Linked DNA regions of Homo sapiens. The protein of the gene in region 4 purifies or fractionates together with the protein of the main gene of each other region. This does not show direct contact. Each region holds a gene or a part of one and is shown on either strand. Other genes may lie near its edges.

Evidence for each region.
Region 1: the proteins of SLC2A5 (region 4) and TMCC3 purify together in Homo sapiens (affinity purification with mass spectrometry; one large-scale study listed by BioGRID and IntAct). This does not show direct contact.
Region 2: the proteins of SLC2A5 (region 4) and SPTLC1 purify together in Homo sapiens (affinity purification with mass spectrometry; one large-scale study listed by BioGRID and IntAct). This does not show direct contact.
Region 3: the proteins of SLC2A5 (region 4) and ATP12A purify together in Homo sapiens (affinity purification with mass spectrometry; 2 studies listed by BioGRID and IntAct, with this or other methods). This does not show direct contact.
Region 5: the proteins of SLC2A5 (region 4) and FTO purify together in Homo sapiens (affinity purification with mass spectrometry; one large-scale study listed by BioGRID and IntAct). This does not show direct contact.
Region 6: the proteins of SLC2A5 (region 4) and PDXDC1 purify together in Homo sapiens (affinity purification with mass spectrometry; one large-scale study listed by BioGRID and IntAct). This does not show direct contact.
Region 7: the proteins of SLC2A5 (region 4) and PEX3 purify together in Homo sapiens (affinity purification with mass spectrometry; one large-scale study listed by BioGRID and IntAct). This does not show direct contact.

What each region holds. Positions count from the first base shown.
Region 1 is NC_000012.12:94,573,559-94,577,987, forward strand, and holds part of TMCC3 (transmembrane and coiled-coil domain protein 3), read right to left. Parts: intron 1-4,429.
Region 2 is NC_000009.12:92,049,078-92,053,506, forward strand, and holds part of SPTLC1 (serine palmitoyltransferase 1), read right to left. Parts: intron 991-4,429; coding exon 883-990; intron 1-882. UniProt on the Homo sapiens protein: Component of the serine palmitoyltransferase multisubunit enzyme (SPT) that catalyzes the initial and rate-limiting step in sphingolipid biosynthesis by condensing L-serine and activated acyl-CoA (most commonly palmitoyl-CoA) to form long-chain bases.
Region 3 is NC_000013.11:24,697,084-24,701,512, forward strand, and holds part of ATP12A (potassium-transporting ATPase alpha chain 2), read left to right. Parts: intron 1-1,574; coding exon 1,575-1,767; intron 1,768-3,663; coding exon 3,664-3,839; intron 3,840-4,429. UniProt on the Homo sapiens protein: The catalytic subunit of a H(+)/K(+) ATPase and/or Na(+)/K(+) ATPase pump which transports K(+) ions in exchange for Na(+) and/or H(+) ions across the apical membrane of epithelial cells.
Region 4 is NC_000001.11:9,055,783-9,060,211, forward strand, and holds part of SLC2A5 (solute carrier family 2, facilitated glucose transporter member 5), read right to left. Parts: intron 2,469-4,429; coding exon 2,370-2,468; intron 1,827-2,369; coding exon 1,666-1,826; intron 1-1,665. UniProt on the Homo sapiens protein: Functions as a fructose transporter that has only low activity with other monosaccharides. Can mediate the uptake of 2-deoxyglucose, but with low efficiency. Essential for fructose uptake in the small intestine.
Region 5 is NC_000016.10:54,116,656-54,120,155, reverse strand, and holds part of FTO (alpha-ketoglutarate-dependent dioxygenase FTO), read right to left. Parts: 3' UTR 1-3,500.
Region 6 is NC_000016.10:14,980,957-14,985,385, reverse strand, and holds part of PDXDC1 (pyridoxal-dependent decarboxylase domain-containing protein 1), read right to left. Parts: exon of another isoform or gene 4,413-4,429; intron 868-4,412; exon of another isoform or gene 728-867; intron 1-727.
Region 7 is NC_000006.12:143,470,376-143,474,804, reverse strand, and holds part of PEX3 (peroxisomal biogenesis factor 3), read right to left. Parts: intron 3,845-4,429; coding exon 3,720-3,844; intron 3,423-3,719; coding exon 3,356-3,422; intron 3,249-3,355; coding exon 3,194-3,248; intron 2,646-3,193; coding exon 2,477-2,645; intron 20-2,476; coding exon 1-19. UniProt on the Homo sapiens protein: Involved in peroxisome biosynthesis and integrity. Assembles membrane vesicles before the matrix proteins are translocated. As a docking factor for PEX19, is necessary for the import of peroxisomal membrane proteins in the peroxisomes.

The DNA.
Region 1 (4,429 bases), on a different chromosome or scaffold from region 4:
AGTACTCTGGCCTTTTCTAAGTTCTTTTTTTCTTTTAAGAGACAGGGTCTCACTCTGTTGCCCAGGCTAGGGTGCAATGGCACAGTCAGAGCTCACTTCAACCTCAACCTCTGGTCTCCTGCCTCCATTCCTCCTGAATGACTGGAATTACAAGTGCGAGCCACCACACACAGCTTTATTCTAAGTTCTGAAAAGGAGCACAGACTCACCTCAGGGCTTCTGCATATTCAGTACACTCTGCCTGAGACATGTGCCTCCCCCACTCCATCCCTTCTTCACCCGTGGATCTCCCACTCATTTTTTAGGTCTCGCCTTGATTGCCACATCCCTGGGGAAGCCTTTCCTGATCCATGAGATGAGATCAAGTCTCCCTTCAGCTCTCCTCCCCAACCACAAGACATACGCTGCCTGAGGACAGGAACTAGCCCATCTTGCATTTGCTGTCCTCTCCAGCACAGAGCCAGCGCCAGGCATGCAGCACGTGCCACACACTGGCTGAATATGAAAGAGACAGCTAGGTGCCAGTAAGAGAATGTGAGGCTTGATGGGTACAGTGGCGCATGCCTGTAATCCCAGCATTCTGGGAGGCCGAGGCGGGTGGATCACTTGAGATCAGGAGTTCAAGACCAGCCTGGCCAATATGGTGAAACCCCCTCTTTACTAAAAAAAAAATACAAAAATTAGCTGGGCATGGTGGCATGCACCTGTAATACCAGCTACTCAGGAGGTTGAGGCAGGAGAATCACTTGAACCCAGGAGGCGGAGGTTGCAGTGAGCCGAGATCACGCCACTACACTCCAGCCCAGGCAACACAGTAAGACGGTCTCAAAAAACAAAAAAAAAAAACAGAATGTGAGGCTTGAGAGAGAAACCTTCAGGCCTGCTGGGTGAAAAGGATCTAACTAGAGGTAGTACAATGTGCCCCTCTCTGTTCTAACTCATTTGCCCATCTGTGTTTGCTCAATTAAAATATAGTCACCTTTTCAGGTTTTAAACAAGAATAATGGCTCCAAGATTGATTTGCTTTTCTTCTGCTGAATAACTCTATGGGCCAAAGAACAGGTTCTCTGTTACTATAGTAACTTCTATTATACTAGGCTACCAACGAAAAGGATAAAACTTCTTCAGATCTTACATTCTAGAAAGTGCTGGCTTTCAGCAATAACAGGCATGTACTAGAAATCATGTGTTCTTTTCAACTACTTGGGTCCAAGGTTTCCTCTATTTTAGGCATAACACAGAAAAGGTGATGGAACAAGACAAAAGACCAACCTTTTAGGAAAATCCATGAATCTTTGATTATAAAATGAATTACGTGTACAAATAGACCGATCTTAGAATTGTCTTACAACTGCTGTCAATTTTTTTTAACCAAAAGAAAAATCCAAGAAAATTAAGGGTGAATTCCAAGGAATTTGAGTCACAGCAGCCAGAGTATTCAGCCCCACAATTTTTGGTACTTCCTTGGGTCCAGTAATTAACTTATTGGGGATGATGACCATAAAAAGGGGTTATCTTGAAACATTTCTAACTGGGAATTCAGGGTTTAAAAAACCACTCAGTTGTTTAAAACAACAAAACCCTGACATCCCTGCAGGCAACAGCCTCCCTGTCTCTGGCAGCCCATTCCCTTTGTGTAACCGTGCCTGTAAGAACAAAACAAATAAGAAAAAATGATGAAGTCAAAAGGCCCAACTGCTAGAAGCCCTGAGGATTGTGGCTACTCCCGGATGTAATAAAAAGAATGGACAGTATTTATTTTTTGACTGTTTACTATGTGCCAGGCAAAGATTTCAATACTTTACATGATTATTCCATTTAATCTTCCTTGACAACCTTTTGAGGTAGAGCTCATTAATATTTCCATTTTATTAAGGAGGAAACTGAGGCACAGAGCACTAACTCATCCAGGGTCACACAGCATAGGTGAGGAGGGCCAGGATTCTAACCAACGTGACAGGGAAGACACTCCAGTCATTCACACAGATGTCCTCTTTACACTTCTGAGTGAGAGATGAAACCAGAAAACGTCGAAATGAACCTCTCTGGATTTTTAAGTTCCCTTTGTGTGGTCCCTCCTTCACCACTAAAATATGTTTGTTAAAACACAGAAGAACAATATTAACCCAAACTATCCCCTAAATAAGAAAACCATGCATTCAGATACCACCCAGTGACACCCGAAACATGCTCTAAAATAGAACGACTTCGTGAAGCAATTGTACTGTTCACTTGGCAACATTTTTATTTGTTTTTTGGAGACAAGGTCTTGCTCTGTCGCCCAGACTGGAGTGCAGTGGTGTGATCACAGCTCACTGCAGCCACAAACTCCTCCCTCGTCGGCCTCTCAAGTAGCTAAGTTTATAGGCATGCCACCATGTCCAGCTATAATAATTAAAAAAAAAATTTTTTTCTAATTATGTTGGCCAGGATGGTCTTGAACTCCTGGCTTCAGATGATCCTTCTACCTCAGCCTCCCAAAGTGCTGCGATTATAGGCATGAGCCACTGCACTCGGCCCACTTGGCAACAATTAACGTTTAAATGGGTTCAAGTTTCTCGAATAAGCCAGTGGTGAAGCAAAGTCTCTTAATCCAGAACAGGGCCAGAAACCTCCCAAGTGTCTTTTGAGATGCGGTCTCTGGGGGCAGAATTTCCCATCAGCTCTGATGTGTTGGTTCCCAGAACTGTCCCAAGTAGGCATCTGGGATTAGCACAGGCTCAGCCCTCAGCAGAGTGGAATAAAAACGTGGCCAGTTGAAACTCCAGGTCACACATTGCAGGATAAAGCACTATCTTTATGTTTAATTTTCTCCCTTGTAAAGTGGGGCTTGGACTTACAGCCTTCAGCCTTCCTAGAGCTGGAGAAAATGACTACTGTCCACAGAGAAAATTCATAAAAATGAAGCTGGGCATTGCTTGAAGAGTACTTTTTTAAGAGACACAGGGCCTCACTCTGTCACCCCCCAGGCTGGAGTGCATTGGCACAATCACTGTAACCTTGAACTCCTGGGCTCAAGCCATCCTCCTACCTCAGACTCCTGAGTTTCTGGGACTACAGGTACACACTGCCACACCCAGCTAATTTAAAAAAAAGTTGTTTTTAGAGATAGAGGGGTCTCACTATGTTGCCCAGGCTGGTCTCAAACTCCTGGCTTCAAGTGATCCTCCTGCCTCAACCTACCAAAGTGCTGGGATTACAGGTGTGAGCCACCAGCCCTGGGCAATTTTTTTTTAAAGGCAATCAAGGAGCCTGGGGTTGTTTCACTACGTGCTAGGATCACATTAGGAAATACTGGAGCACAACTTTGTTTATATTGATCCCATTATCCTTTCCTTCCATCCACCCAGATCCTACCCATTCCTTCCAGTCCCGCCTTCTCTAGGACATTCAATTACATTCCTTCCTTAAGAATGACTTGCAAGACCTTGTTTAGGCCACTTAACCTCTCTGTGCCTCGGTCTCCATATCTGAGAAGTGGGGATAATAACAGAAACTACCTTAAAGTGTTGCTGAGAAGTAAATGGGAAAAAAAGAAACCTGTGAAGTGTTTTGCTAGTATTGAGCACACAGTATGTATCGAAGTGCTTTAATTTCTTACAAATACGAATGCTATTATTAATTAATTAATTAATTTATTCATTTTTTGAGACAGACTCTCACTGTGTCGTCCAGGCTGGAGTGCAATGGCGCGATCTCGGCTCATTGCAACCTCTGCCTCCCGGATTCAAGCAATTCTCCCGCCTCAGCCTCCCGAGTAGCTGGGACTACAGGTGTGTGCCATCACGCCTGGCTAATTTTTTGTATTTTTAGTAGAGACGGGGTTTCACCTTGTTAGCCAGGATGGTCTCAATCTCCTGACCTCGTGACCCAACCGCCTTGGCCTCCCAAAGTGCTGTGAGCCACCGCGCCTGGCCATGTGAATGCTATTATTTTACAGATGAGTGAATAGGCTCAAGTCTTACTCAGGGCCACACAACTGATATGACAGACGTGGGACTGAACGTGGAAATGTTTTGCTACTACATGACTGACTGCTCCCATGGTCCACAGCTTGCTAGACACCACATGGCTAAATTTCTGTGGCTCACAGAGTCCGTGTCGTGTAAATTGGCCAATGTTTGTGCTGTCTTGAGTTCTTTGGCAGTTGCGCTATCCCACACTCTCCACCTAGGCAGTGAGCTGCTTGAAGCCAGAGATTGTCTCCTATTTTTACATTTTACAGTTTTGGTGGTGATGGGCTTGAGGTGGATAATAAATACTTGTTCATTGATTTAGGCATAAAGTATAAAGAATATTGTCTCTTAGCCAGGCACGGTGGCTCACACCTGTAATCCCAGCACTTTGGGAGGCTAAGGTGGGCAGATCACTTGAGGTCAGGAGTTTGAGACCAGCCTGGCCAACATGGTGAAACCCCGTCTCTACTAAA
Region 2 (4,429 bases), on a different chromosome or scaffold from region 4:
CTCGGTGCATGTAACTGCTGAATGTCAGTCTGCCTTGGAGGAGGTGCTTCCATCCAACCTCCCGGGATATTCACTCTGCTTTACATTTTTCTCTGGGACTATATGGTTAGCGGGATGTCGATAATGTAAGGCAATTTTACGTTTTATAGTTCAACTCTGTAACACAGGTTGCACAGCTCTTATGCGCATGTTTTGGAGAAAAAGCTTTCTGTAACTCTTCCCATGGTGGTTGGTAAGACAGCTGTTCAAGACTGGCTGACTTCCTCTGCCCTGAGGCTCCAGGAGCAAAACCCACTAGGCACTGCGGGCAGTCTGGGTCCATTTCCCTCAGAAAAGGAAACATGACACCTCATTCTGTTTGGGACTTTAAGAGGTTTTGCTGAATGCATGCCAGTGGTGTTTCTGACACACACACACATGCACACACACACGCACGCACGCGTAACTGTATCTACCTCCCACAAACACATTATATAGAATACAGATTTTTAAACACCAGAAACAGTATCCTTTCTCTGCCGTCATGAATACTTCTGAAAAGACCACTCAGGAAATTCCTAATGATTTTAAGAAATAATTGGAAGGCAAAATTTAACCATTTCTAGAGAAGAGACACTAAAAGTCTATTCGAATGAAACTTTGCAAACAGAGCACAAACCATGACTACCCACTCCGAGTTTATAAGTGCAGAAGGAAGATGGGGTTCCCTGGTCTGGCTGACTAGACTCATCCTGGGCTCACTGAGGTGACAGACACCAAAGTTTCGTGACCCTTCAAACTGATAAGGAACACTGTCTTGTGCCTATAAAAATATAGGCCTAGCAGAATGGAACTACATGTCTCCTATAAGAGGGGAAACGTTCTTAAAAAAGGGGAACTTACATTGATTCCATAGTGTTCAGTGACTCCTCGGCCATGCTCTCCTAGGACTCCAAATGAAAGGCTTTCCTCCAGGAAGATTCTTGCTTTGTATTTGTATTTTAACTTAACCTAAGTGTTATATAAACGTTAAAATACTAATGATTAGCACCATATAGAACATATTATGGAGAAAAAAATTAAGATTAAAAAGTATGTACAGCTGACTCTCAATACTTGTGAATTCTATATGTGCAAATTCATCTACTTATTAAAACTTATTTGCAACCTCCATATCAATACTTTTTTCCTGTCATCACGGATATGTGCATGTGCAGAGCAGTGAAGAATTTGAATTACCTGACACGTGTTTTCCCAGGTGAGGGTGAACAGGCGACTGTTTCAGCTCTGATCCTGTGAACAACTACCCTTTTCATGGCCTATTTACTGCCACTTTTTTGGACTTCTGTGCTTTTTGTTGGTGATTTTGCTATTTAGAGTCGCCCCCAAGTGTCATGCTAAAGTGCCGTCTATTACTCCTAGTGCTGTGATGTCCCTTATGGAGAAAATTTGTGTGTTAGAGAAGCTTTGTTCAGGCATGAGTGGTAGTGCAATGAATCAACAGACATTAAATAAGACACCTTTAAACAAAAATACACATAAAGCAAGTTTTGTGTCAACTGGTTGATGAAAATGTTGTAACCAGAGGCTCAGAGGAACCTAACCCTATTATTTGCCCTAGCAGCAATAGTTTAGTATTTCTTATTCCAGTGTTCATGGCAACTTTATAGAATATAAGTAGGGTGAATGATGAGAATCAATTGTCCTTTAGATGGTCTAAAATGATTCACTTAACAAAAGACAGCACAATACTGATTTTTTTTTTTTTTTTTTTGAGACAGAGTCTTGCTCTGCCACCCAGGCTAGAGTGCAGTGGTAGGATCATGGCTCACTGCAGCCTTGACCTCCTGGGCTCAAGTGATTCTCCTACCTCCGCCACCCAAAGTGTTGGGATTAAAGGTGTGAGCCACCATGCCCAGCTTCAGTGCTTATCTACACTTGAGCTGTTCCTACACTTCATCTTTAGTTTCGTATCTGTCCATTAGCACTGCTTCATTACTGTAGCCCTATAATATACGTCCTAGTATCTTCTGGTTCACTACCTCCCTCCCATTATTCTATCAACCATTGACACTCTTACAAAAACAAAAAGAAGAAAACAAATACATCTCTTCTATTGATACTTAAAATATATTTAGATTTCCTCAGAAATAGTGAAAACATTTAAAAACAACATATGGAACCCTTATTTTGAATCCTTATTCAATTAATAGACTCCTAGATTAAAATCTCAATGGCCGAATGCAATGGTGGTTCAACATGGAAAAATCAAATATGTATTACATACACATTAGAAGAATGTAGGGGGAAAAACCCCACATGATCATCCCAATAAATGCAGAAAAAAAATTTGACAAAATCCAACAACCTCTCATGATAAAACACTCAATAAATTAAAAATGGGAAGGAACTTCCTCAACCTGATAAAAGGTTATTATAAAAAACTCACAGCTACCATCATACTCAATGGTAGAAGACTGAAAGCTTTCCTTATAAGATCAGGAACAAGACAAAGATGCTCATTTTCGCCACCTGTAGTCAACACTGTAGTCGAGGTCCTAGCCAGGGCAATCAGGCAAGAAAGATAAAGGGCATCCAAATTGAAAAGAAACAAGTAAAATTATCTCTATTCACAGATGGTGTAATCTTATACATAGAATAAGATCCACAAAAGTATTATTTGAGCTAATAAATTCAGCAGAAGTTACATTATGCAAAAGCAATACACAAATATCTGTTGTATTTCTATAAATAGCAGTAAACAATCTAAAAAGGAAATTAAGGAAACAATTCCATTTATAGTAGAATAAAAAAATCAAATACTTAGTGATAAATTTAACCAAAGAGGTGCAGGACGTATATACTAAAAATCACAAAACATTGCTGAAGGAAATATCTAAATAGATGGAAAAATCCCAAGTTCATGGACTGGAAGACTTAATATCATTAAGATGGTAATACTTCCCAATGTGACTACATATTCAATGCAATCCCCACCAAAATCCCAACAATACTTTTTACAGAAATGGAAAAGCTAATCCTAAAATTCAAATGGAATTTCAAGAGACCCCAAATAGCTAAAATAATTTTGAAAAAGAACAAAGTTGAACTCACATGTCCTGATTTCAAAACTCACTACAAAGCTACAATAATTGACACAGTGTGGTACTGGCATAGGACAGATATATAGAAGAATGAAACAGAATAGAGTCTAGAAATAAACCCATACATCTATGGTCAATTAATTTCAACAAGGGTGCCAAGACCAGTCAATGGGGAAACATTAAACAAATGATGCAGGCAAAACTGGATAACCACTTGTGAAAGAATAAAATTGGACCTCTTCATCAACGCATACGCAAAAATGAACTCAAATGAACTACAGACCTAAATGTAAGACTGAAAACTATAAACTCTTAGGGGGAAACATAGCAATAAATCTTGATAATTTTGGATTAAACAAAGATTATTATTATTATTTTTTTTTTTTTGAGACAGAGTCTCGCTCTGTTGCCCAGGCTGGAGTGCACTGGCGTGATCTCGGCTCACTGCAACCTCCACATCCCAGGTTCAAGCAATTCTCCTGCCTCAGCCTCCCGAGTAGCTGGGATTACAGGCGTGTACCACCACACCCGGCTAATTTTTTTGTATTTTTAGTAGAGACGGGGTTTTACCATGTTGGCCAGGCTGGTCTCGAACTCCTGACCTCAAATGATTCACCTGCCTCGGCCTCCCAAAGTGCTGGGATTACAGGCGTGAGCCACCGTGCCCGGCCAGATTAAACAAAGATTTTAAAATAAAACACAAAAGCACAAGCAACAACAAAACACATAAACTGGACATCATCAAAATTTTTAAAAACTGTGTGTCAAAGGACAGTATCAAATAAATGAAACAAACCCCCACAAAATAGGAGAAAATATTTGCAAATCATGTATCTGATAAACATCTAGTATCCAGAATATACAAGGAATTCTTTTAAAAACAAAAAAACAACCCAATTTAAAAAATGGGCAAAGCACCTGAATAGATATGTCTCCAAAGGTATACGCATGGCCAAACAAACAAACAAACAAAAAAAAAAACAAGAAAAGAGGCTCAGCATCATTAGCCATTTGGGGGAAACAGGATCAAAACCACAGTGAGATACTACCTCATGCTCACTAGGGTGGCTAAAACAAACCAACAAAAAACCCTGGAAAATATAAGTGCTGACAAAGATGTAGAGAAACTGTAACCCTGGTATATAGCTGATAGGAATGTAAAATGGTGCAATCGCTGTTGAAAACAGTATGTCAGTTCCTTATTAAGTTAAACACAGAATTACCATATAATCCAGCAATTACCCTGCTAGATATATACATAAAAGAACTGAAAACAGGAATTCAAACAAATACCTGTACACAAATGTTCACAACAGCACTATTTGCAATAGCAAAAAGGTAGAAAG
Region 3 (4,429 bases), on a different chromosome or scaffold from region 4:
CTCTGGAGCCTGCTAGCCTGGGCTCAAATCCCAGCTCAGCCACCAGATAGCCACCTATTGCTCAGTGACCCTGAGTGAAGCATTGAACCTCTGTGCCTCAGTTTCCTCCTTTGTAAAAGGGAATAATAATAGTACCCATGGCCTTAAAGTTGTTTTGAGAATAAATAAGTCGATGTGGACAGCACTTAGAACAGTGCCTGGCACGTGGTACATACCATAAAAGTGTTTCATATTATCCCTATGTTTTAAATGTAAAAAGCCTTATCTTGGCCAGGTACAGTGGCTCACACCTGTAATCACAGCACTTTGGGAGATCGAAGAAGGCAGATTGCTTGAGCCCAGGAGTTCAAGACCAGCCTGGGCAATATACCAAGACCTTATCTCTACAAAAAAAACAAAAAACGAAATTAGCTGGGCATGGTGGCACATACCTGTAGTCCCAGCTACTTGGGAGGCTGAGGTGGGAGGATTGCTTGAGCCTGGGAGGTCGAGGCTGCAGTGAGCTGTGATCGTGCCACTGCACTCCAGCCTGGGGCACAGAGTGGGACCCCGTCTCAAAAAAAAAAAAAAAAAAATTTAAGAGAGAAAGAGAGAAAGAAAAAGAAAAGGCCTATATTTTAGAAAGTGATAGAGCTGGGAGGTTTTCTGTTTGGTTTGGTTTTTGTTGGTTGGTTGGTTTTCTCAATGTCTTTACTTGATCATTAAAAAAAGCAGCAGCAGCAGCTGGTAACCCTATTTGCCCTATACTTCTTTTTGTACTCATCTTTGATACCCAGAAGTCTAAGAAATACTGATTTGTAAAGAACTGTTTTACCCAAAATTGTAGCACTTTTCTTTGCAACTTATTTTCTCCCAAACACTCCAGCTTCCTGAGATTCCTCTTGAGTGCTTAGAAGAGTACCTGGCTTATCAGAAGGGCTAGATAAGAGTTAGTCCTTTTATTCTTGTATATCGATTTTTTTTGCATATCTTATTAGGATGGATCTAGAAGTAGAATTGCTGGGTCAAGAGCATTCCTATTAAAATGGAGACTCCTGTGACTCGGCTGTCTTCCTGAAACATTATACGTGGAAGTGTCCACTTCCTCACACCCCGCCATTTTCTATGACATCCAAGCAGGAAAACTGGGTGGACAATGAGGTGAGGAGGTGCAGAAATTCCTGTCGCCTCCTCCCCTCCTGAGCTCAGAATAGTTTGGGTCTGAAAGACGGCTGCTCCCCACAGGGAGGTAGAGGAGGTGAGATGCAGAGGCTCGCAGCCCCCTAACTCTCACGGGCACCCTGGGAGATCTTGTTCAAGGCACAAGATTTCACACGCTGACGGCCACAACTAGCCTGCCTAAAGCAGCCAGTTTTGCTTGAAAGATGAGCTCCACTTATCCAGAGTGGGTGCCCCACTCTGGGCTGGGGCCAAGTCTAGAGCTCTTCGTCTTACTTGGCCACAGAAAGAAAAAGGGCGGAACATGCTGAGGATGCCATTGTGCCTCTTCCTCCTTTACATTTAATGGACCAGTAGAGAAGAAGGAATGCGTTTCACCTTTCTGTAAGTAACACGCTCAGTTCATTCCTTCCCAGCTCTCCATCCACGAGATGGATGACCCCCACGGCAAGCGCTTCCTCATGGTGATGAAGGGGGCCCCTGAGCGCATCCTAGAGAAATGCAGCACCATCATGATCAACGGCGAGGAGCACCCACTGGACAAGAGCACTGCCAAGACCTTCCACACAGCCTACATGGAGCTGGGCGGGTTGGGCGAGCGTGTGCTGGGTGAGTGCGGCGGCAGGGCCCTGCCCATCACCTGGTGGGCACAGAGATGAGGCAGGCGCCTTGAGGACCTGTGACCTAGCCCAGTGGCCATGGCATCCACGTGAAGCATGTAAAGGAGAACATGATAAGCAGGATGGGAACAAGGAGAGGATGCTGTGTGACAGCACCAAGCAGGGTGGGATGGCCTCCAGAGAGGCAAGCTCAGGGAAGACTTTATGGAAGGAGTTAAATTTCAAACTGGGCCTTAAGTGACTGCATTTGAGGGGAGATAGGGGAAAGTATCCAGGGCCCAGGGAACAGCACAGGCCAATCACAGAGGCAGAACGGCGTGGGGCACATTGGGTGCTGCCAGCAGGTGAGATGGCACTGTCACAGAAACAGGGTTCAAGGGCTGGACTGGAGGTCATGAGATGGAGGTCTTGAACATCTGGGTGAGGAGCCAGGTTTCATCCTGCAGTCAGTAGAGAGCACTGAGGGCTGTGCCACTAGAGTGAGCTGGGCAGTCGCAGGGCTGGGGAAGACTTTATGGAAGGAGTTAAATTTCTTTAACTTCTTTAAATGTCTTTGGCGGCAGCAGGGAGAGGAGAGATGCACATCTCCATAGGAAGCAGCTGCCCTTGCTCAGGCAAAAGGGATGGGAATTTTTTCAGGGTGATGGGAATGGGAAGGAGAGATCAGGGCAAGAGACTTCATAGAGGTAGAGTTTGGTAAGATTTAGAACCTATCAGAGAAGGATAATGTTTAAAAATGATTAAGCTTCCCATTTAACGACTAGGAAGAGAGTGATGCCAGTGATGCAGACAAAGTGTCAGGAAGGAAGGAACCTTAGAAATGCAACAGGAGGAGGACCCAATGGGGGTGCCTGCGGTGTTGTCAAAGGGGACAGTGTGTCCTGTTGTCAGCACCAGGGCTGGCGGAATGGTGCCCCATCAGGACCACAGAATGACAAATTCAAGGAAACAGAAGTGTATGGTTGACGATCCGGCTCATTAAACACCATGGAAGTCCTCACCAATACAGATGCAGTCTGTGGAATGTGTGTTTCTAAAGGCTATTGGAGTTGGCAAATCAGATAAAGCATATAAATGAGATGGTGATGCTTTAGGCATCCAATAACCCACAGTACCGGGTATTCTACACGGGATCGATGCCCACTTGCGTTTGATTTCTCAAAGCCTGCTCCATTGACATTTGCAAAGCAGTGGGCCAGGCTGAAAATAAATTGGATGTGAAAGCTGATCACACAATCTTGGAGGTCCCACCAGACACAAGAGTCCCTTCCACCTCAGCCTATGAGAGGCTGATGCCTTCTGAGAAAAGGATGGCTCGGCCCCATTCCTGCTGGCCTTTCTCTTGGGCTTATCTTGATCTAGCACTGAACTTTGTGCCCCTCCGCTGAACCCCCTTGTTCCTTCACATGCTGTTTTCTCTGCTGAAAATGGCCTTCCCACCTCCACCCTCCCTTTTTTCCCTAGAAATCATCTTTGCCCCTCTCAAGCTTCACCTCACATGTGACCTCCTTGGGGAAGTCTCTCCTAATCCTCCAGGCAGCTGAAATGTGTCTCTGCCCTGAGATGTACCCTATGCTTGATCCCTTTAACTCTGTGCCCCGCTAAACTTCAGAAGTCGAGACTGTGTATTGCCCTAGAACTTGGCAATATAGCAAGATATATTTCTAGAACACAGAGCCTAATGAGCTCACAGTGAATTATATTTGGATGAAATATGTCTTTCCTAAAAAAATGCATTATGGAGTTGAAGAAATTAAACAATTCTGGCTTATTCTAATGTATTGGTAAAACAGCAGAGGACCAAGGTGTATGAGCATGTTCTCCTCTTATTTTTTTTCGTTTCCTATTCTAGTTTCACTGACTCACTAATTCATCTGTATTACAGGTTTCTGTCATCTCTACCTGCCAGCAGACGAGTTTCCAGAAACCTACTCATTTGACATAGACGCTATGAACTTTCCGACCTCCAACCTCTGTTTTGTGGGACTCTTGTCAATGATCGATCCCCCTCGGTCCACCGTGCCAGATGCAGTCACCAAATGCCGGAGTGCAGGGATCAAGGTGGGAGTTATTTTCCTGACTCAAGAAGTTCTTTCTTTATGTCGTGTTCCTTTCTAATAATGGTTTTCATAGCAGATGGTCAGTATTTAGGTGTCTTCAAGTAAATATCATAATTCCTATTTTATTTCTAGTTTCACTGTGCTAAGGTTACTGAAACTGTCCCACAAAAAGAAAATGATTGTGTCTATGTGGAATGAACCACATAAACAGTAAATGCAATGAGAAGAATCTCCTAGTGCCTTGAAGTGACCATATCTCGCCCTAGTCCATGGTAGATACTAAAAGGCTTTATTGGCTGGGCGCAGTGGCTCATGCCTGAAATCCCAGCACTTTGGGAAGCTGAGGCAGGCGGATCATCTGAGGTCAGGAGTTCCAGACCAGCCATGGCCAACATGGTGAAACCCCGTTTCTACTAAAAATACAAAAAAATTAGCCAGATGTGGTGGCACACACCTGTAATCCCAGCTACTCGGGAGGCTGAGGCAGGAGAATCTCTTGAATCCAGGAGGCAGAGGTTGCAGTGAGCCGAGATCACACCATTGCACTCCAGCTTGGGCAACAAGAGTGAAACTCTGTCTCAAAAAAAAAAA
Region 4 (4,429 bases):
GCAGACACCTGTAATCCCAGCTACTTGGGAAGCTGAGGCAGGAGAATGGCTTGAACCCAGGAGGTGGAGGTTGCAGTGAGCCAATTTCACACCACTGCACTCCAGCCTGGGCGTCAGAGCAAGACTCTACCTCAAAAAATAAAGAAATAAATAACACCCACAAATACTTAAGAAAACGGCAAATAGCCAAATAGTGTTTATCAGACTCCTAAGTAGACAGCTCAATTAGCAACCTTCAGCTCCATCTGTGGGCCAAGCGGCGTGCTCTTAACTCAAGAAGTGTCCGGCAGGTCTGATTCTGACTGGAGGGATGTTCTGCTCCATGAGGGCCCACAGGGAAAACTGTGGGTTCAACACTAATCTCTCAAGAGGATGTTAGATCCCAAAGCTGCAGCGGTGTTTTTTGTTTGTTTGTTTTTTGAGACGGAGTTTCGCTCTTGTTGCCCAGGCTGGAGTGCGATGGTGCGATCTTAGCTCACGGCAACCTCCGCTTCCCAGGCTCAAGCAATTCTCCGGCCTCAGCCTCCCGAGTAGGGGGGTTACAGGCACCCACCACCATGCCCGGCTAATTTTTGTATTTTTAGTAGAGACGGAGTTTCACCATGTTGGCCAGGCTGGTCTCCAACTCCTGACCTCAGGTGATCCGCCCGCCTCTGCCACCCAAAGTGTTGGGATTACAGACGTGAGCCACTGCGCCCAGCTGTGTGTTTTTATTCTCAGATTCTTTTCTTGAAATACTGGAGGAGGAGTCAGAGTCTGGGTTACTCTGGGCTCACTAGATCTGTGACCTCACTCAGCCCCACGTGCTCCTCATCCCTAGACGGGTTGGACAAGGGGACCTCTAAAATTCTCTTTCTAACTAGGTCTTCCATAATGTCCATGGAATTTATACGGGGGAGCGTGACATCTTAAGGACACTTTTTTGAAATAAAATATGGCATTTCTAATGTTTCTAGAAATAGGGGCAAAGATACAGCCCTGACCCCTTTGTTCACGAGGCTGGTGTCACAAGAGAGATGTCCTAGATGACACTGTGGGGCAAAAGGGCAGTATGAGCAGAAGCAAGTCCTGGGTCTCCACAAGCACACACGGCTCCTTCCGGGTCTGCCCGAGGGCCTGTAGATCCCTGGCCACCCCTGCTTCTAACCCCTGAGACCCTGCCTAGGTCCCCAAACACTGTCAATGTCTGATCTTCTTTTCTGACCCCATTAGAAAATAAAAATGACCGGCCAGGCGCAGTGGCTCACGCCTGTAATCCCAGCACTCTGGGGGGCTGAGGCGGGTGGGTCACCTGAGGTCAGGAGTTTGAGACCAGCTTGACCAACATGGTGAAACTCCGTCTCTACTAGAAATACATTAGCTGGGTATGGTGGTATACATCTGTGATCCCAGGATCAGGAGGCTGAGGCAGGAGAATCGCTTGAACCTGGGAGGCGGAGGTTGCGGTGAGCCAAGATCGCGCCACTGCATTCCAGCCTGGCTGACAGAGCAAGACTCCATCTCAAAAATTAAAAAAAAAAAAAAAAAAAAAAAGAAAGAAAAAAGAAAAATGACCACAGTGGTTATTATCTTAGTCTCATGGTAAGGATTTCAGTTGTAGGCCTGTATTTTAGCTCTGATGGGGGTCTATGAGTTTCAGGGAATTAAAAATTCACCTTCCCTTACCTGCCAAATTTATTCACCAAGGGGCCGACCAGGAGGGATCCGATAAACCCTCCAAATGGAAACATGGACACGGTTACAGACCACAGCAACGTCAAGGGGAAGTCTTCCATGAATTCACCGGTCCTACCATAGTAAGTCTCATTGTAAAATTGTTGCATGAGCTAGGAGACAAAGCAAAACAGAACACCAAAATAATTTGATCCGGTTTTGCAAGAAGAACATTAGCTGTTAGGACACCCAATGAAATAACCTGGGCACACAGAGACCAACCTTATTAACCGGGGGGTGATGGGAGGCAGGACAGAGCTTCAGGAGCAGTGAGAAGGGTGGGCACCCACCGGGAGGGCTGGGAAGCCTCTCAGCAGCAAACCACCCTGGGTGTTTCTCAGCCAGAAAGGGATGACTCCAATTTTCCAATCAGCTGGGAGACCCCTGGCCCCCCCGGATTCCCTCTAAACAGCAAGGCCACAGAAGATCTGAGCCCCCTCCTAGAGCCCGGCCCACTGTGTGTCCATCCAGACCTGGCCCATCCCAAGAGACCTGTGTCTGCGAGTTCCCTCGGGTCTGTGCTGTGTCCGGAGGGTGTTTCCCTCTCCCTTTGCTTCAGGACCCACTGCGTGAACAGCCCCACGCTGGCCAGTCCCACCCAGGCAATGGGCTGCTCCAAACGTCCTCCCCACATCTTGCTCACCACAGTGACCTACCAGTGCTGGGGAGTTGACAGCAGCCACGTTGTACCCATACTGGAAGGATGACCCAAAGGCAGCTATCAGGGTTGCCAGGGCAAGCACAAGCGTCAGCCTCTGCAGAGATCACAGCTTAGGTCAGGAAGCAGCCCCAGGGTTCCAGGGCCCTCCCGCTTTACTTCGGTTTCGTAGAAAGATGTAACAGAATCTGAAGATCCATAGTCTTGAGACTACTCCATTCCTTGAAACCTACCCTCAACCCACCTTGGGTTACAGGCTTTCTCAACCATGGCACTTTTGACACTTGGGGTCTGATAATTCTTTGTTATGGGGGCTGTCCTGAGCACAGCAGGATGTTTACAGCATCCTGTGAACATGGTGCCAGTAGCACCCCTCTCCCCAGCTGCGACAACCCAAATGTCTTCCAACATTGTTAAGTGTCCCCTGGTGGGGAAGTGCTCCATTTGAGAACCACTGGATCAGAGAGAAGCTGAAACCTACTTCTCTAACACTGCAGCTACTGCAGCTGTTTGAATTGCTCCTGTGACATTCCTGCCACGTGGGGCATTTGCCAACTGCAGCAAATGTGCTCTTGCACCATCTCAAACATAAACTCCCAGAAAATCAAAGAGAAAAAGAGAAAATTTTAGCTATTTTGGCCACTGAAAATTTCCTTTCAGACAATCTTTAATGACAAGAGGAAATTCATTAGTAATGAAGAGCAGGAGACAGACATGGAAAGAGCTGCGGGCTTAAAATCTACAGGCCTCAGTTTTGAATCTACCTGTTGCCACTTTTCAGCTTAATTTCTAGGATCTTCAGTTTCTTCATCTCTGAAATGAGGACAATCACACTCCCTACCAGAGTGTTTGCCAGGATTAATTACGACCATGTCTAGCTGCAGAGGTGAATCTGCTGTTGGAGAGAGCTTGGGACGCTGCTCTCTGACTTGCCATCAAAGGACCTTCTTCCATCTACTCTGATGGACAGCCGCCTTTCTTTCTTTTTTTTTTTTTTTTTTTTTTTTGACACAGAGTCTTGCTCTGTCACCCAGGCTGGAGTGCAGTGGCGCAATCTCGGCTCACTGCAAGCTCCGCCTCCTGGGTTCACGCCATTCTCCTGCCTTAGCCTCCCAAATAGCTGGGACTACAGGCACCCGCCACCACGCCTGGCTAATTTTTTGTATTTTTTAGTAGAGACGGGGTTTCACTGTGTTAGCCAGGATGGTCTCAATCTCCTGACCTCGTGATCTGCCTGCCTTGGCCTCCCAAAGTACTGGGATTACAGGCGTGAGCCACCACGCCTGGCCAGAGAGCCCCCTTTCACAGGTAACACAGGTTCATGCTTGGCCCTCCAGTGACAAGACAAGCACTATCCCACGGTATCTAAATCTACAGAGAATCTTTTTTTTTTTTTTTTTTCTGAGACATTTCTTGCCCTGGCTGGAGTGCTGTGGTGCTATTATAGCTCACTGTGACCTCAACCTCCTGGGCTCAAGTGATCCTCCCACCTCAGCCTCCCGAGTAGCTGAGACTACAGGTGCATGCCATCATGCCTGGCTAATTAAAAAATATATTTTTATAGAGACAGGGGTCTCATTATATTGTCCAAGCTGGTCTCAAACTCCTGGGCTCAAGCGATCCTCCTGCCTCAGCCTCCCAAAGTGCTGGGATTGTAGGCATGAGCCACTGTGCCCGGCCTAAAGAGGATGTCTTGAGAGAGGTAAGTGAGGAGCCAGAAAGGGAGAGAAACAATGATCATTCCTGCCTTGTCATGGGGCCCCAGATGGGGTGGAGTGAACCTCTGAAGAGCAGCACCTGCAAGGAGCCCTGGTGAAGAGCAAAAACATACTACACACACACACACACACACACACACACTACACACACACACTACACACATACAGTACACACACACCACACACACACAATACACACACTACACACACACACTACACACACAACACACACAATACACACACACTATACACACACACAACACACACACTACATACACACTACACACACTACACACTACATACACAATACACACACTACACACACACTACACACACGCCC
Region 5 (3,500 bases), on a different chromosome or scaffold from region 4:
CAAGGCTGTCAAATTCACTTTGATTTTGGCCTCAGCTGGGCTTCATGCTTTCAGAACAATTTCTCCCACCGCCTTTCACTTGAAGTCCTTGGCAGGGATGCCTCTCCCATTCTGCACGCACAGCTCACTTAATGGGCACAAAGAAATGGGAGAAAGCTCAGGGAAAAAAGAAATAACAACCCGACCCAGTCTAAATCTTGGGAAATCGAACAGGGTCTGCATCTCTTTGAAAACTATACACAGACATTTCTGGTCGAAGTGAAACCATGCTTCTCACAGAGGGTTGGAGACAGCAAATGGAGCCTTAGTCATACACAGTTAGTTTCAAACTTATGTTGCTGCTCACAGGGAGAAATCAATGTACGGTATATTAAAAACAATCACTGCAGCCCTTAAATGATCCAATAGTTTAGCTTTGAATGCATTCAAGCTAATGGGGGCTTTAATGGCTTCTGACAGATCATTCCATTGATCAAGGGGCATGTATGAAATACGCTGCCTACTAAACTCTGTTTTGATTTTGAGAAAAGAAAACTAAACGTCCATGGTAAACATGGCTTGATTGTTCACATGTTCACCGAGATCCCTCTCAGCGTGACCCTGGTTGGGAGCAGAGGAGGGAAGGATAATGGAATCCTATATACCTGGTTTGCTTCTCTCCTGACTCTAATCAAGGCATAATCAACGGGAAACCTCTGTCTGCAGAGTTGGGGGCAGGGGGAAGGAAGGTGACCAGCGGTCCAGTTTTCTGGGTTGGATGAGTTATAAGCCACGGCTTTGGCTGTCTGAGAAACTGATTCATCTCTTGCAAGCCTTGGGGGTTTGAAGGTTAACTGTTCTGGTTCCAACGTGGAAAGCCGAATTCCCTATTTGAAAGGATAATCAGGTTTTTCAGTTGGGGACAGCAGTTTTGCAAAGAAACAAATGAAATCATGCTCCTCCATCCGTGTGTCTGGAGGCTCCAAGATTATTTTATGAAGTGCTGAACGTACCTCTACTCAAGAAAGGCAGTTTCCACAGGGTGCATGGAGTCTGAAAAACCTAAAGAGGCCTTAACATGATTCATTGAGACTATTCTTGTGCAAGAGAGGTTTCTATTTCTCCAAGCCCTGGCAGCCTGCTGTGGCTTTAAGAGTGAGCCATAGACTGTTCCTGTGTCAGACTGGTCTTGCCTGATCAGAAGTAATGAATGTATGTAGAAATTCTTCCATTACCCAGCCAAACTAAATTGGTTTCACAAAACGAATAATAATAATTTCTCTCCCTTGGACTTGAGTAGGACTTTAGCATTTACAAAGCCTTTTTCCAAATGTTATCTCCACCTGCTAGCTGCACAGTCGTGGTTTTACCTGTGTGGATGGGGATGGATCTGGCTTGTGGACCCTCTCTCCTTCTCTCGGAGGCTGGGAAGGGAAGAAGGGTGCCCTTGAAACTGGCACCACGAAGACAGTGATCACCTGTGGTCTTTGTTTAATCTTTAACACCAAGCAAGGCTGTGTGGAGGGCAAGGCGTAGTGGCTCACGCTTGTAATCTCAGCGCTTTGGGAGGCCGATGCAGGCAGATCACTTGAGCCTCGGAGTTTGAAACCAGCCTGTGTAATGTGGTGAAATCCTGTCTCTACAAAAAAATTAGCCGGATGTGGTGGCAAGTGCCTATGATCCCGACTACTTAGGAGGCTGAGGCAGGAGAATCGCTTGAGCCCATGAAGTCGAGGCTGCAGTGAGCCGTGATCTCACCACTGCACTCCAGCCTACGTGACAGGGTGAGACCCTGTCTGAAAAAAAAAAAGAAAAAAAAAAAAGACTGTGTGAAAGAGCTTCATGCCATTATCACTAATGAAGAGGGTCAGAATTACCCGAAGCACACAGGATCTGGAACCATTGAACTTCTCCTAAACTTCCTGTAGAACGGTCTTGACCCTTTTGGCCCCACCTGTAGGGCACCTTGCTGTCCTAGGCCAGCACTTCCCATCTCTCAGCAGGAAACTACCGCATTTACCAGATCAGAAACAAAGGGAATCTCCGCCTGCTAGAAGTGCTTCATTTGTATTGGTGCCATGTTTAGTCAGTGGCTTTTGTAAAATTGATGAATTTTGTCTAAAGGCAAGTGCAGACAGGCAAACAGATCTGTATCTGCTGTTATCCATTTAGCTTGACACACATGTGCAGAGGAACTATTTTACCTCAATTCTTTCAGGATTGATGAAAAGTAAATGCGAGCAAAGTCATGAACTGCATCATTGGAAAAGAATCACTGAATCTAATGCTGGAGGTTAATTAATGCTTCCCTCCCCTTGAAATAGACTGACCCTGGTACTTAGACATTCAGAGTCAATAAACAATTGTTGTACACAGATCATCCATTAGAAGGTGATGGCAAGAATTTTTTTAAGCAAATCCAAAATTGCAATGGGTGACCTACTCCCACTGTAGAAATGAGAGTCCTAAAACATCATTTTTCATAATATCTCATTTATAAAAAGTTCCATGCCATCCGCCTAGCGAAAAATGGAAGCTGTGAAGAGCAAATGGGATAATATATGGGATAGTGACACAATATTCTTCTTGAACAAGCCACAGCTATCTTTAGTCCCTTTAATATTTTGGTCAGGATATCACGGATCATATTTTTCATCATAATAATGTACATGCGTGGCGTGATTTTTAAGTACCAGACATGATATGAATCACTTAACATGGCTGATCGTAGGGGACAGAACAATCCAATGAGCTAGGCATTATCATCATCCCCATTATAGAAACAAAGACTGGAGCGCAGAGGGGTTAAGTGATTTGGCCCAGTCACAAAGCTACAACTGTTACCACAGGAAACTTGGTTAATAATAATAGCTAGTACCTCACTGAAGCCCAGTATATGTCAGGTACTGTGGGAGGCATTTTAAATACGCATTAACTTATTGAACCTTCACAACAACCTTAGGTGATGGATTACTACTATTCTATTTTGTAGATAAGACAACAAAGGTTTGAAGAGGTGGTAGAGTGAGAATCACACACAGAATCAGAACTTAAACTCAGAAAACCTCTTCTGCCACTCAGGAATCCAAAGATTTGGAAAATCTGATGAATGACAGCGGGATAGAAAGAGCAGAGGATGCAGAGAGGCTCAGTTTCCAATGTAGGAGGAGGATTTGGGCCAGAGAGCAGGAAGAACTTGGCTGACAAGGTTCTGAGAGGTGGGAATTAGGACTGTCCTGGGAGCATGGGGCCGATGGGACACAGGACTATGGGAGCAGGGCTGCCTGGGAACCGGGGTGGAAAGCTGTCTGGTCCTTCTAGCCGGGATCTGGGGGGCACTTGTGGTTCTCCTTGTTAATAAGAGAGAATGGAGAACCAGATCTTCAGATACTTTCCTGGAGTTTCCAGGAATCTATCGGGTGTCTCAGGTGAGCGAGAGAACCAGGTGAATGCCTTCTGACAACCCCCAAAACCTGCCTCCCAAACACAGCAGTGGCCCAGGGGTGCCCTTGCTGTCTTGC
Region 6 (4,429 bases), on a different chromosome or scaffold from region 4:
AACCCGGGAGGCGGAGCTTGCAGTAAGCCGAGATTGTGCCACTGCACTCCAGCCTGGGCGACAGACCAAGACTCCGTCTCAAAAAAAAAAAAAAAAAAAAAAAAGTTGTTTATCATATCTTCCAAAACTGGTAACTACAATAGAAATAAAAGGTGTCTTTAGAGCCTAAGATTTGGGAATTAATGAACTAGTCACTTTAAAAATTTTTTCATCTTAGGCAGTGGCTCACACCTGTAATCCCAGCACTTTGGGAGGCCGGGGTGGGCAGATCACGAAGTCAGGAGTTCGAGACCAGCCTGGCCAAGATGGTAAAACCCCATCCATCTCTACTAAAAATACAAAAACTAGTCGTGTGCAATGGCGGGCACCTGTAATCCCAGCTACTCAGGAAGCTGAGGCAGGAGAATCGCTTGAACCCAGGAGGTAGAGGTTGCAGTGAGCCAAGAATGCACCACTGCACTCCAGCCTAGGTGACAGAGCAAGACTCTGTTTCAGGGGAAAAAAAAAAATTTCATCTTTTGAAAACACACGAATCAACACTTTTCCTCAGTTAAACCAGTTCACCAAAGTGTGAATTTAAAAAATTATACATTTGGCTGGCAGCGGTGGCTCATGCCTGTAATTCTGGCACTTTGGGAGGCAGAGGCGGGCGGATCACGATAGGAGTTTGAGACCAGCCTGTCCAACATGGTGAAATCTCGTCTCTACTAAAGATACAAAAAATTACCTGGGCGTGGTGGTGTGCCTGTAACCCCAGCTACTCAGGAGGCTGAGGCAGGAGAATCGTTTGAACCCGGGAGGCGGAGGTTGCAGTGAACCGAGATGGCGCCATTGCACTCCAGCCTGGGCGACAGGGTGAGAGTCCGTCTCAGAAAAAAAAAAAAAAAAAATATATATATATATATATATGTATACACACACACACACACACTCTCTCTCTCTCTCTCTCTCACTTTTATGTGATTTGGAAAAAAAAAAAAAAACCCACACAAACACACACCTCAAATCCCAGAATTTAGAGACATTACAGTTGAGGACAAATCTAAGTTAAAAAAAAAAAAAAAAAAAAAGGCGGGGGTGCAGGGATGGGATGGGTGGGTAAAGAGGTCTAGAGTGACAGAAAGCAGGGCAGGGATCCACTGCAAAGGGACATAGGGACATTTTCAGGGAGACAGAAATGCTCTGTACCTTTTTTGGGGTGGGTGGGTAGGGGACTTATTTTCTGAGACAGGGTCTCACTCTGTCACCCAGGCCAAGTGCAGCGGCACTATCGTGGCTCCCTGCAGCCTCACCCTCCTGGGCTCAAGCGATCCTCTCACCTCAGCCTCCCAAGTAGCTGGGACTACAGGTGCATGCCACCAAGCCTGGCTAAGTTTTTATTTTTTATAGAGATAGGAGTCTCACTGTGTTGCCCTGGCTGCCCTCAAACTCCTGGGCTCAAGAGATCCTCCTTCCTTGGCCTCCCAAAGTGTTGAAATTACAGGTGTGAGCCACTGCACCAGGTCAATGCTTTGTATCTTGATCATGCTGGTGGTAATATCACTATATACAACTTCCAAAACACAAACTATATAATTAAAATGGGTCTATTTGTTGTAAGTAAACGGTTCCTCAATTTTTCATAAAGGGGGAGTAAATTGATGTAAAGTAGATTTAAAAGAAAATACTAAGCAAATAATAGTATAGGTGGTACAGTGATGTGGCCAAATTCACAGATGGTACATGAATAACTGACATGAATAACTGCTGTTTAAGACATACAGAGCTAAGCCTTCAAAGAGAAGGCTTTTTTTTTTTTTTTTTTTTTTTTTTTGAGACGGAGTCTTGCTCTGTCGCCTAGGCTGGAGTACAGTGGCATGATCTCGGCTCACTGCAACCTCCGCCTCCCGGGTTCAAGCGATTCTCCTGCCTCAGCCTCCCAATTAGCTGGGACCACAGGCACATGCCACGACACCCGGCTAGTTTTTTTGTATTTTTAGTAGAGACGGGGTTTCACCATGTTAGCCATGATGGCCTCGATCTCCTGACCTCATGATCTGCCCGCCTCGGCCTCCCAAAGTGATGAGATTACAGGCATGAGCCACCATACCCGGCCAAGAGAAGGCTTTTAAGAGAAGCAGCCTCTATAACAAAGAAAGTCTAAAATTTATTTTTAAAAGTATATTAATTGTAACATTCATCAATGCTAGAAGTATATAATACTTTCGTTTCAACAAAGTTTTTTTTTCAGGAGAGGAATGTTCTTATTTGGGGGACTTTTAGGACTTATTTCAGAGGCCTCTTAGGGCTAACTAAAGAGAAACCAGCTGCTCATATTAGAAGACCTTGGAGTTATGAGATGCTAGTTTATACCATATGCATTAGACATAAAAAAAATCACTACCTACCTTCGGCTGAGATAAAAAGCAAGAGGTAAAGCTCCAGACAGCTGTTCCTAACTTAACTACTCTTGCCTCCCACAGCTTTCTGAACAAGGTAAATCCTGAATAGTGATCATCATTCAACCTTCATCTCTGCAAAAAGCATTTCTTTTCCTCCCAGGCGAAAACAAACAGTGCCTGCTGTCTAGCACTAGTTAAACAAGTTCCCCAAACACCACACACGTCTATTATAATACATACCACTGAGAAGCCACAGCAAGAACATAATGTTCCTTATGGGCCAAGGATGAGAGAAGAGGACAGGAATCCTCCAAGCTGATACAGTGACTTGTAAACCTGGTTTATCTTATTGGAGTCTCAGTTTCTACATTTGTAAGTATTTTTGCCTGATTCAACAGTACAGTATTTAAGAACCAGAACTTTTGTCTCCTCCCATCTTCTTTTTTTTTTGAGATGGAGTCTCACTCTGTTGCAGTGGCACAATCTCCTGAGTAGCTGGGACTACAGGCGTGAGCCACCACACCTGGCTAATTTTTGTATTTTTAGTAGAGATGGGGTTTCACCACGTGGGCCAGGCTGGTCTCGAACTCCTGACCTCAGGTGATCCACCCACCTCGGCCTCCCAAAGTGCTGGGAGTACAGGCATGAGCCACCATGCTCAGCCGTCTCCTCTCATCTTCTAAGAACTGGATATTGTCATTTGAAAGTCTTATTTTTAACCATCATGGTCTCTACGCTTGAGTGTGTCTGTGAGAATATGAAGACATACTGTAATTACTGGCTCATTAAGATTAAGCATCATAATCTTCCTAGTTGAAAAGGGTTAGCCAAGTACTGTATAAGGTGTAACTATAAGTATTTAACCTTACAAATTCCTCAAGAAGATAGGCAGAAAATAGGAAAGAAAAGGGCAAAAATAGGCCGGGTGCAGTGGCCCACCTGAGGTACAGAGTTCAAGACCAGCCTGGCCAACATGATGAAACCCTGTCTCTACTAAAAATACAAAAAATTAGCTGGGCGCGGTGGTGGGCGCCTGTAATCCCAGCTACTCAGGAGGCTAAGACAGGAGAATTGCTTGAACCCAGAGGCAGAGGTTACAGTGAACCAAGATCGCACCACTGCAGTCCAGCCTGGGCAACAAGAGCAAAACTCCATCTCAAAAAAAAAAAAGAAACAAAAGAAAAGGACAAAAATACCCAACAGTGGAAAGGAGGCAGCAAAGTTAACTGCACAGATCACATCTCAGTCAGAGAGCAGTATGTGAAGGAGGGAAAAAGCCTCTAATCACTTGACTCAGATATACGTTGGAGATGCTAGAGATCCAACTCCGTGTTCCAAAAACCTGTGTTCCCAGAGACCACTACTGCAGTGTCAGTTCACACAGATCTTATAACACGAGTAAACACTTCCAGATAATGACACTGATGGAAAAATAGCATACAATAGGGAAGCTCTATTTCTAAAAACTTTACTGTTTACCTGGAATCACACCTTTATTCTGGAACAAAAAGAAAACTGCTAAACAGAAGCAGATACTGTTATAACTCTTCCTTAAGATAAGCTTTATAGGCAGTGTTTAACTAGTTTAACTAGTGCTAGACAGCAGGCACTGTTTGTTTTTGCCTGGGAGGAAAAGAAATGCTTTTAGCAGAGATGAAGGTTGAATGATTATCACCATTCAGGATTTACCTTGTTCAGGGATTGTTAGGGAGCGATCAAATCGGAAAGGTAAAGATGAAATGCTTTTCCTGTTTCTTGATTTTTATCTACCAGCAATAATATGAGGCACACTCGTAAAGTAAAGGTTTGCATTATATTTACAATTAAACTCTAGAAAAGCATAATTCTGAGCTAAATATTCTGCCTAAAGAATCTCTTTCACATAATCCTTCCTGGTCACTTGCTCCTTGCACTCACAATTTGTTTCTTAATTCCTATGCTTTTTATCCCTTTCTATACAAGGATTTGTCCAAAAAAAAGTATACTCCCTTACCAGAACGCAACCTCCTGCAGGGGCCACATCTTACTCACCTTGTGTCTCTGTCAGC
Region 7 (4,429 bases), on a different chromosome or scaffold from region 4:
GAGGAGAAAGTCCACAGGCCTATAGAATTAAAATGTCACACTTAAGGTTTTCAAACATTAGCACAGGGTTATGATGAAACTAATCACATTCATAAATAAAGAGTTTAGGAAATCTAAGTCTATGTTCTATCAACAATAAAAAAAGTTAGACCCTCCCCCACCAAAATAAAAACCTGTAATGGTTTATGTGTGCAAATAAGTAGAATTTAAGACATGAGTAAAAGTAAAATTATACTTAGTAAGAGCTCTGTTTATCTGGCCCTTCTTGGATAGATTTCTAGTATAGTCAGACAAAGAAGAAATAGGTTTTGAGTTTGCAGAGGTCTGGGTTTTTTTTTTTTTTTTTGAGACGGAGTCTCGCTCTGTCGCCCAGGCTGGAGTGCAATGGCATGATCTTGGCTCCCTGAAACCTCTGCCTCCGAGGTTCAAGTGATTCTCCTGCCTCAACCTCCTGAGTAGCTGGGATTACAAGCGTGCGCCACCACGACCGGCTAAGTTTGTATTTTTATTTGTATTTTTAGTAGAGACAGGGTTTCACCATATTGGTCAGACTGGTCTCGAACTCCTGACCTCGTGATCCGCCTGCCTCGGCCTCCCAAAGTGCTGGGATTACAGGCGTGCACCACCGCACCCGGCCTTTTTTTTTAATTTAATTTTACTATTATTATTTTTTTGAGAAAGGGTCTCACTCTGTCATCCAGACTGGAGTGCAGTGGCATGATCATAGCTTAGGCAACCTCGAACTCGTGGGCTCAAGTGATCCTCCTGCCTCAGCTTCCTAAGTAGTAGTTAGGACTACAGGCATGGGCCACCATACTAATTTTTCATTTTTTTTTTTTTTGTAGGGGTAGGGTCTTGTTATGCTTCCCAGGCTGGTCTCAAATTCCTGGCCTCAAGCCATCCTCTTGCCTTGGCCTCCCAAAGCATTTTTTTTTTAAGAGACAGATTGGTGTTGCCCAGTCTGGAGTGCAATGGTGCAACCATAGCACACCACGGACTCGAACTGCTGAGCTTAAAAAATCCTTCCTCCTCAGCCTCCTGAGTAGCTGGGACTATAGCCATGCACCACTATGCCCATCTGACTGATTTTTTTAATTTTAATTTTTAGAGACAGGATCTCGCTATGTTGCCCAGGCTGGTCCTGAACTCCTGGACCCAAGTGATCCTCCCCGTCAACCTCCTATGCTTTTTTCTTTTATCAGTAAGAGATTTTATCAGGATATGTGTGTGTCTTTTTTCATCAATCTAGTCTGAGACTCTATGTGTCCTTTCAATCTTAAATTTCAGGTTTTAATTCAGTTCAGTAAGATCTGGTCCATCATTTCTCTCTTCATCTGTTCTTTTGTTTTCTTTTTGGTCCTGTTTTGAATTTTGAAAACTGTAAATTACTTTAGAGTCCTAAAAAGATTTCTTAATACTCTTATTGCGTCTCCTTGAGATTCTATTTTGTAAGTTGTCTCCTGTTTCATTAATTCTGTTCCATCTGTTCTGTTTGATCAGTTTAGTCTCTATCTTTCAAGTTACAGGGTTTCCTTAAATGGGATGCAACTTTTTTTTTGGCCTACTCATGAATGTAGGATCTCTCAGCACCCAAACAGGTTCATCTTTGTCTCTGGCAATGGGAAATCCTGCAGGCAATGAAAACAAGGCATTCTGTTCTAACAGGGCCTCTCTGCTGAGGTATGGCATAGGGGGCCTCTCTGTTCTAAGGCTTTTCCAGTTGTCAAGTAAGAGCTGTTCTCCCAATTACAAAGAATGAGTGCAAACCAGCAGACAAACGAAAAATTACTAATTTAGGAAATGAGCCATAACCTGCAATCTGGCATTTCTATTATTTTTAATCAATGAATAACTTACGTAACAACTACCCAGGACACACCAGTGTTTAGCAACACTATAGTTGATAATTTTTGGATTAGACATTGTTTCTCAAGTGGATGACTATAACCTCCTCAGTCCATTTTTGTACTTTCATCATTAACTTTTTTAAAAAGCAAAGGTGATTGTGTTATTGGACTGGTTAAAATCTACCTTTCTTTGTCTACAAATTGGAGTTCAGACTCGTTATCTTGGCATATAAAGCTCTTTATAATCTTGCCCTGACCTTCAGCTCTATGTTCTGCTACTTGATCTGATACAAAAATACGCTGCAGCCCACCAATTGAATTTGTATCTTCAGTTCCCCAGGTGTAATGAACATGTCTTACACATTTTACATCTCCAGAATACATCACAGTATCTACTGTCACATACCTGATAATAAAAATGTACTGAATATCTAAAATTGTTAAGTGCTTCTTACTAGAAATCACTCATAATGGCTGTTTTTCTAAATTAATGGGTTTTACTTCAATTACTGAAATATATGCTTTTCAATCACTTACCTTTCAAGAGACTCAGAAATCAAAATTTCAAGAGAGTAAAATTTTAAAAGAATAGAGTAACTGGTTTGGTTAAATGGTTATGAATTAAGCACCTGCACTGCTAATGGAGTTTCTTCATCTGGCATCATATAATGGCATAATAAAGGTTTGGATCCATCTTTATTAATCCAAGAAGAAGACTTATGCTGCTCAACGAGATTTCTGATTTCTTTTAGTTTTTGCTCCAAGTCCAAAAGGGACAAAGAATGTTTAAGAGAAACACTAGAAACAGAGAAAAGGGAATTGGGATAAATAGAAACTATACAACACATCCTATATACACTCTTTTCTTAACAGGCTACTATCTAAAATCCTGTTTCTTCTGCTTACACCTGTAACTGCTGACTGGAATAGAATGGATTACGAAATCAGCCACTAGTTAAGGGCCATTACTACAGAGCCAAGAAAAGTATTTCTCTGGATTCCATAAGAGAATTCCTACTGTAATTATAGATATTACTAGTATAAATGGGAGGTAAAAGCCTCAGAGGCAGATTTTAAAGTAGGTCTTTTATCTCATGACCCAAATATTTCTGATTTGTATGAAATCAATCAATTAACAATGAAACATTAAAACTTTCCCCTCTGTATAAAAAAAAAGATAAAGAAAATGGATCCCACAATGCAATATCCTAGGATGGTATCTGATTTTATTACAAAGAGTTTCACAAATCACCGTTTGTCAAGTCACTGGTTTCACTAGAACAATTCTAATTTTCTTTCACTCATTAGAATCAAGAAGTCAGAAAAGTCAAAGAAAAATGCCTTACCTTCCTAAAACCTTCTGCACAGCTTGTTTAATGACAGTGATCAATTCTGTCAGGCCTATTAAAGAAAAAACAAACCTAAAAGCCTTGCTTAGTTTAAAAATTCCTCAATAATAAAAATAAATGAATTAAAATTAGTATAAAAGTCACAAATAAGAATCTTACCATCTCCAAGTAGGTGCTGAATACTTGATAAATACTGCTGTTGGACATCTGGGGGAGCAAGAATTGTCTGTATAAAACAGAAATACAGTTCAATTATCCAAGTTTTAAACTGGTAAATAAGAAATGTTTTCAATAAAACTTTGGCTGAGATTTTTCAAGATCTGAAATGACGGGAAAAATAGTAATTTTTAACACACCAAAAATTCTAGTTTCAACATATAAAAATTATTCATAATACTAAAAGTTCACAATCACATGAAATATAAAAATATTTATTTCATAGAAATTGTTATCAGGATAAATAAGTTAAACTTTGAACCTCCTGAGGGAAAGAACAATGTCTATTTAAGTCTATTAAACTTACAGTGCCATTTTTGCCAACTGCTGCATTATCCAGGTAAATATATCCACCAATTATGTTTAACTGGACCCGCAAAAGAACAACCAGCATACAGGTACTGTATACAGCCACAGTACTTCTTGTGAAACCTTCACAGAGAAAAGAAAAGCATTTGGTACTGTGATTAATACAAATGTGTAAAATCATGAACCATCCTAAGGTTATTTTTTTGTAAGATGACTTTTAAAAACATATTTACAACTGTTTCTAGTATAAAAATATATCAATTCAAAATATTTCAGTCTCTCCTCACAATTGTTTAATAAAAATTAGGTATGATCCCTTAATTGAAACAATAACCAATGAAATATATTAGGTGAAAGAGGTATATACTATTAGCTTAGAAAGGAAAACAAGGAAAAGTCTGGGAAGCACAAAGAATTGTAGCTTCAGAACTCTTAGTTGTCAATGGAGCTATTTTCAAGTAAGAGAAGAAGGCTGAGTGTGGAAGAACTCTAGCCTTCAATGGCAGCCCGAGGAGGATGAGCCTGTTTAAGGACTACAGGAAAGTACAGAAAGACTGGGGAAGCCTGGTAAGACAGGCCTCCCAGTAGCTTAGGACAGGGTGTTCAAAACAGAGGAGAGAGTGAAGGTGTTGACTGCTGCCGAGAGTCCTAGCAGAAGGAAAATGTCCAGCAGATCTGGTAACACAGAAGTTGTTACTGACGCTTGAG